Homo sapiens: one gene and its partner. The protein of the gene in region 2 purifies or fractionates together with the protein of the main gene of each other region. This does not show direct contact. Each region holds a gene or a part of one and is shown on either strand. Other genes may lie near its edges.

Region 1 (3,753 bases), on a different chromosome or scaffold from region 2:
TGGCGTTGATGATGATAAAGCGAATGCAACAGTGGATGGTCTTGAACAGGTACTTTTTATCAATAACTGAAAACTGTAGGGATCTTACTTGGTGTTTTTATGTAATTGTTGGAAGGATCATTCAGAAAGCAAATGGGTTAATGAACTTTTAAAATGCTGTAGGTGAGGCATGACAGTTTACACACTGTGTTTATCAGTGCTCTTGATGAAATTACACAAGTTAGGAAATGGAAAATGTCCACTTGGTTCATTTGTATCTGTCTGCTTAAACGCTTTCTAGGGATATGTTGTTTGTCCTTCTGAAAAGAGATTCCTTCTGCTCTTTACATTCCTTAAGAAGAACCGAAAGAAGAAGCTTATGGTCTTCTTTTCATCTTGTATGTCTGTGAAATACCACTATGAGTTGCTGAACTACATTGATTTGCCCGTCTTGGCCATTCATGTAAGTGATGATGATGAGCTCATTGAAAACAGGGTATGCTTATTAAATCCTATAGATTGTAGGATTGGAGGTATTGCCCTCTCCTGGAAACATTGTTCTGAGTAGTTTGATCACCACTAGATGATGGATCCTGTGTGGGGGAGCGCTGCTGGGTGTGGAGGGGTATGAGGACTTTCGAAGAGTGCAAGACACCATCCTCCTTGAGGGGCTTGCGGAACAGTTGGGGAAATAGGACATAGGCCAAGGGATGAGCTCGAAATAGGGTAACAGTTCCACAATTTGGGGGTTCTACTGCTAGTCTTCCTCAAGATTCCAGCTCTAATGGATGTTTTTATTTAATTCTAGGGAAAGCAAAAGCAAAATAAGCGTACAACCACATTCTTCCAGTTCTGCAATGCAGATTCGGGAACACTATTGTGTACGGATGTGGCAGCGAGAGGACTAGACATTCCTGAAGTCGACTGGATTGTTCAGTATGACCCTCCGGATGACCCTAAGGTAACTGGCATCTTTGGAATATCTTCAGAATGACTCTGCATTAAAAGTTCACTTATTCTCCCAGTTCCCTGACGGAAACTGCATTCCACATTCAAGGTAAAGATCCCTACTATACAGTGACTGCAGTATTTCTCTGGTATTGAAAAGTACTTAAGGCTTTTCAGGGCTCAAACGGGCTGTGCCAGAGGATTGAAAAGGATCAGTGGGACTTAAGTTATGAAAATGAGATCCTTGGAATGATCTCTTAAGAACAGCAGATGCCTGAAGGAAATAAAATTGCTTAAGGAAGTAGATAAACTTCTGTAGTATATGTGGTAGAATAAGCTTCATTGAGAAGTATTTTCAACAAACACTGGATTAAAGCCGTTTTGATGATGAAGCACACATAATACTCATTTTATTAGATCGCTGTTAATGCAAACATCATGTCCAGCCTTTTTTTTTTTTTTTTTTTTTTTTTTTTGGGCCTCAATCATTGGCCTATTGGGGGTGATGTGCACAGAGCGATTGCTGGCCCAGCTTTGTGGGGGTGTGGTGAAGGTGTGTGTGGCCCAGCACCGTGGGACTACACCATCTCAGTACAGACATGCACATACTCAGGATGCAGATACGCAAATGGGCTCATGTGGAAGTCACTGCGTTAACTCAGATTTTCTTTCTCCACCAAAGGAATATATTCATCGTGTGGGTAGAACAGCCAGAGGCCTAAATGGGAGAGGGCATGCCTTGCTCATTTTGCGCCCAGAAGAATTGGGTTTTCTTCGCTACTTGAAACAATCCAAGGTAAAGATCTGTACTTGGAGAAAGATTTCTCTTGGTGTAGGGATTGTTAGCAAGCAACATTTCTACATGTGTCAGAGGAGTCTCGAGTCTGGCCAGTGCTGTTACAACCATTCTTATGGCAATTAAGCAAGTAAGGTTTTATGTACTTCTAGCCCAAGAAGTGAGCACAGAAGGAACTGCCCACATGGCTCGGCTTTCTAGCTCTGTTACCCAGCAACACCTCTGTGTCCCAGCCTCTCCTTTCCTGTTCCCTCCAGCCCTCTTTGAAACCTTCTCCACTCCTTTGAAGCTCCCTCACACCTAGTCATCTCTGCTTCTGCTCCCCTTCTTTCCTCTTACCTCATGTGAAGCAGTGGGGAATCCTTGTTCGCTCTAGCCTCTGCCTCCTCCCCTGCCCTCTGTCTCCTATTCATCAACTCTTGGCCTACAGTCTCTTCCTTGCGGTTGGCGCTTTACCATCTCAAATTTCTCACTGTAAAAAAGTAACTTCAACCTTAAACCTGTTCTTCTACCCCTGCCTGCAGGAGCTACTGTCTGTTGCCTTTCCTCAGTCAGCCTTACTGGAAAAATGGCTTATATTCTTGCCATTTACCTCCCTCTCAGTCCCTAACCAGCCTAATTTGGCTTTAGCTTTCTACTATCACACCAGAATTGAATCCATCAGGACCCTAAGTGGCCTCTTCATTGCTAGGCCATGTGGGGGATGCATATCAGGCCTTCTCCTGCCTGACATTTACATCCTCATTGGCCTTTCTGGCATAGTCTTGATGATAGGCTTCCTCTACCCTGTAACTGCAGGCAGTTCCCTGAAATTGCTCTACAGCTTTTGCACACTTTGTCCAGAATGCTTGGTTTCAGCTCGCCTCTGTCTTTGCTGGGAAGCCATCGCTGATCTCCTGCCTCCTTGTTCCCACAGCACAGGTGCTCATCAGGTTGACATTTCTTTCTTTCTTTCTTTTTTTATTATTATTACACTTTAAGTTCTAGGGTACATGTGCACCATGTGCAGGTTTGTTACATATGTATTCATGTGCCATGTTGGTGTGCTGCACCCATAAACTCGTCATATACGTTAGGTATATATCCTAATGCTATCCCTTCCCCCTCCCCCCACCCCACGACAGGCCCCGGTGTGTGATATTCACCACCCTGTGTCCAAGTGTTCTCATTGTTCATTTCCCACCTGTGAGTGAGAACATGCGGTGTTTGGTTTTCTGTCCTTGCAATAGTTTGCTCAGAATGATGGTTTCCCGTGTCATCCATGTCCCTACAAAGGACATGAACTCATCCTTTTTTATGGCTGCATAGTATTCCATGGTGTGTATGTGCCACATTTTCTTAATCCAGTCTGTCATTGATGGGCATTTGGGTTGGTTCCAAGTCTTTGTTATTGTGAATAAACATACATGTGCATGTGTCTTTATAGCAGCATGATTTATAATCCTTTGGGTATATACCCAGTAATGGGATGGCCGGGTCAAATGGTATTTCTAGGTCTAGATCCTTGAGGAATCGTCACACTGTCTTCCACAATGGATGAACTAGTTTACAGTCCCACCAACAGTGTAAAAGTGTTCCTGTTTCTCCACATCTCCTCCAGCACCTGTTGTTTCCTGACTTTTTAATGATCGCCATTTTAACTGGTGTGAGATGGTATCTCACTGTGATTTTTATTTGGATTTCTCTGATGGCCAGTGATGATGAGCATATTTTCATGTCTGTTGGCTGCCTAAATGTCTTCTTTTGAGAAGTGTGTGTTCATATCTTTCGCCCACTTTTTGATTGGGTTGTTTGATTTTTTCTTGTAAATTTGTTTAAGTTCTTAGTAGATTCTGGATATTAGTCCTAGCCAAAATTGACAAATGGGATCTAATTAAAGAGCTTCTGCACAGCAAAAGAAACTACCATCAGAGTGAACAGGCAACCTACAGAATGGGAGAAAATTTTTGCAATCTACCTATCTGACAAAGGGCTAATATCCAGAATCTACAGGTTGACATTTCATTACTTATCTTTCTCCCCCTCAAGAC
Region 2 (3,753 bases):
GATTTTGTCGTTCCCCTTGTTTAAAAAGACTTTCAATGAACTTGAATTGGTATTTGTACACCAATGGTCACGGCAACACTATTCACAATAGCCAAAAGGTGGAAACAAATCAAATGCTCATTGATGAATGAACGGATAAACAAAATGTGACACATACAATGGAATGTTATTTAGCCATAAAAAGAAAGGAAATTCTGACATGTACTACAACATGGATAAACCTTGAAGACAATTATGTTAAGTAAAATAAGCCAGACCCAAAAGCCTTATTCCACATACACAAAATGGTATAATTCTTTAAAATATGCTTCTATTTATATGAGGTACCCAGAATAGTCAAAATCACAGAGGCAAAAAGTAAAATAGTAGTTACCAGGGGTTGGGGACTGAGGGGACAGAGGAGTTATTGTTTAATGACTATAGTTTCAGCTGGGGATGATGAAAAAGTTCTGAAGACAGATGGTGGTGATGGTTGCACAGTGATGTGAATGTACTGGATGCCACCAAACTGTATATTTAAAAACAGAGAGTAAATTTTACGTTCCGGATATCTTGCCACACACAGGCACAAAACTTCGATGATTCCTTATTATCTGACTAACAAAAGTACAAATTACTCATCTTAGCATCAAAAATCCTCCAGAGTAAGCCAAACTCTTTCTAGACTTACCTCTCATTAATTCCACTTTTGTGGTAAATTGAATATTAGTTTAATCATGTTAAGTTATGGGGAAGGCTGAATTATATAAAGAAAACTAGTAATTTTCAAGGTTTAATAAGCTATTTTGCATTGTGAAACTCCAAAAGGGCCTAGGAACAAATAAATGAACTTGAAAAAAAATGTATTCAATTAGATTATTCTTACCTATGTTGATCAAATTTAATGACTTAATGGTATTATACTTACAGTGAAAAAAGAAGTCCCACAAAAGCGAGTACATATTCCTCGTACAAAGCCTTCATGTGCTTGTATTGTACGGATACAATTCCGCTGAGTTAGATTCCAAATTCTAACCTATGATAAGGCATACCAGGAAATTTCAGTGAACTATAAATGTAAAATGTTCAGGATAAATTCAACACTGACAAGGCTACGAATCACTCTACTGGGCAGCTAAAACCAAAATCCTTTGGATTAAAACAATGCAATGCATATGGATAAGTATACTGATGAGCAAAAAATACAACCTGACAAATACTCTGTTGATTCTAAAGTGTTACAAAACTTTTTCACTTGCCATAGTAGGAAATTAGGTGTTGACAACATCTGTGAAAAAACTCATACTTAAATACTTTAATTATAAACATGATTATTTAATTTACTGTCAAATTGATCCTTAAACTACTGCATTTATAATTTCTTAGGTTTAAAGAAGAAAATACTAAACAGTATTCCTAACGAAATTTAGTCTTGAGAAGTAAATTGAAATCCAATAAAGTAAAACCTACAGTAACTAAAAACTAAAGGGAAAACATTTGTAATATAACTACTTTTAGTTGAAAATATCATCTAGATTGACACTTGCCTCTCCATCACACGCCCCAGAAAGGACAGTAGCCAGCTTCTCTGGATGCTTTGCCAAGCAATTGACTCCATCACGGTGACCATCCAGCGAAGCAAGGAATGGTTTTGCAAATACTCGTTCCAGTTTGGTAGCATTTAAAGCTCTTATATATTCTCGTGGGACCTCAAAAGGATGTAAAGCAGGATCATAGTTTCTTGGAACTGAAATAAGAATGATCCTTCTTAATAATTCACACTTAATATTTCCTGCAGTCTTCCTCAGCTAATCACTCTGTTATTCAATAAGCATTTAGTTAGTGACATTGTTCTATGCCTAACACTAAGAATACAAAAGTAGAAGACCTGTTGTTCAGAAATCTTTCTGAAATTACTGGAAAATCATGGGATGCATACATCTTGCAAAACAATTAGACCCTAGGTATATATACATGCAGCATTTCCTTTTTTTTTTTTTTTTGAGACGGAGTCTTGCTCCGTCACCAGGCTGGAGTGCAGTGGCGCAATCTCGGCTCACTGCAACCTCCGCTTCTCAGGTTCAAGCAATTCTCCTGCCTCAGCCACCCGAGTAGCTGGGATTACAGGCGCATGCCACCACGCCCAGCTAATTTTTCTATTTTTAGTAGAGATGGGGTTTCACCATATTGGTCAGGCTGGTCTCGATCTCGTGACCTCGTGATCCACACGCCTCAGCCTCCCAAAGTGCTGGGATTACAGGCATGAGCCACCGTGCCCGGCCTCCCTTTTATATGTCCTAGTACCCTCTTCAACTGGGTTGTAAGTGTTCACTGTCAGGGCTTCCAATACACTTTTCATTTGTACTTCCTTATGCCTAGCACAGTTTCTGGGACAAAATATGTGCAAGATGTTTGCTCAACAGAACTCTAAGCTTCCTGTAGGGCAGGGAACATTATTAATCTCTGGTGCTAAATACTGTGCTGATAGACACACGAAGTTGTGATTATGATGATATTATATAGCTATCATTTACTGAGCACTTTCTATGTTTGTTTACTTACTTAAAAAAGACTCACATAAGAGTTCAAGTGCCAGGCGCTGTTCCAAAAACCTTAACCGTTTAATCTCCACAGCATCCTATGTGTTAAGTTCTATTACTATCTCACACTTTATTGATGGGAAAACTGAGGCATAAAGAGGTTAAGTAACTCGAATACGACACGGTGGAGCCAGGATTCAAACCAAGGCAGTATGGCTCCAGAATCTATGTTTTAACTGTCCTGATACGCTGCTAAACACATTGTCTTGGTTAATAATCACGCTTAGGGCCGGGCGTGGTGGCTCACGCCTGTAATCCCAGCACTTTGGGGGGCCGGGACGGACGGATCACGAGGTCAGGAGATCGAGACCATCCTGGCTACCACAGTGAAATCCCATCTACTAAAAATACAAAAAGTTAGCCAGCGGTGGGGGTGGTATGTGCCTGCAGTCCCAGCTACTCAGGAGGCTGAGGCAAAAGAATCACTTGAACCTGGGAGGTGGAGGTTGCAGTGAGCCGAGATCGCGCCACTGCACTCCAGCCTGGCTGACAGAGTGTGACTTCATCTCAAAAAAAAAAAAAAAAAAAAAAAAAAAAAAAAAAATATATATATATATATATATATATATATATATATATATATATAATTATGCTTAGAAAGTAATTTTAAGCTCGTATGTCTAAAAAAACTCAGTGAGTAAAAAGTAAATGCATCTTCTTACCCCATGACTTCATCCTGCTGTTTCTTTCTGACTCCCTGGTAATGGTGTTATATCTAACATTCAACAAAGCTCTAGCCTAGGTCATTCTTATGTATTCCATCTTCCATATTCCCTACTACCAAAACTCAAAGTCCTACTCATCATCTCTTTGCAACACTTACTCATCTTTCAACTCTCTATTTCTAGTTTTTTGTGTTTTGTTTTTGTTTTTGTTTTGAGATGCGGTATCATTCTGTCACCCAAGCTGGAATGCAGTGATATGACTATAGCCTACTGCAGCCTCAACCTCCAGGGCTTAAGTGATCCTCCCACCTTAGCCTCTCACCTCAGCCTCCCAAGTAGCTTGGACCTGAGGCATGCACCACCATGCCCCATTAATCTTTAAATTTTTTGTAGAGACGGGGGTCTCCTTATGATGCCCAGGCTACTCTCGAACTCCTGGGCTCAAGAGATCCTCCCACCTTTGCCGCCCAAAGTGTTGGGTTTATGAATGTGAGCCACTGCATTCCCAG

The links. Proteins that work in one complex are often made in the same cells at the same time.
Region 1: the proteins of DCAF13 (region 2) and DDX18 purify together in Homo sapiens (affinity purification with mass spectrometry; 2 studies listed by BioGRID, with this or other methods). This does not show direct contact.

What each region holds. Positions count from the first base shown.
Region 1 is NC_000002.12:117,824,660-117,828,412, forward strand, and holds part of DDX18 (ATP-dependent RNA helicase DDX18), read left to right. Parts: coding exon 1-49; intron 50-280; coding exon 281-442; intron 443-787; coding exon 788-940; intron 941-1,609; coding exon 1,610-1,723; intron 1,724-3,753. UniProt on the Homo sapiens protein: ATP-dependent RNA helicase that plays a role in the regulation of R-loop homeostasis in both endogenous R-loop-prone regions and at sites of DNA damage.
Region 2 is NC_000008.11:103,418,237-103,421,989, reverse strand, and holds part of DCAF13 (DDB1- and CUL4-associated factor 13), read right to left. Parts: intron 1,727-3,753; coding exon 1,527-1,726; intron 1,016-1,526; coding exon 908-1,015; intron 1-907. UniProt on the Homo sapiens protein: Part of the small subunit (SSU) processome, first precursor of the small eukaryotic ribosomal subunit.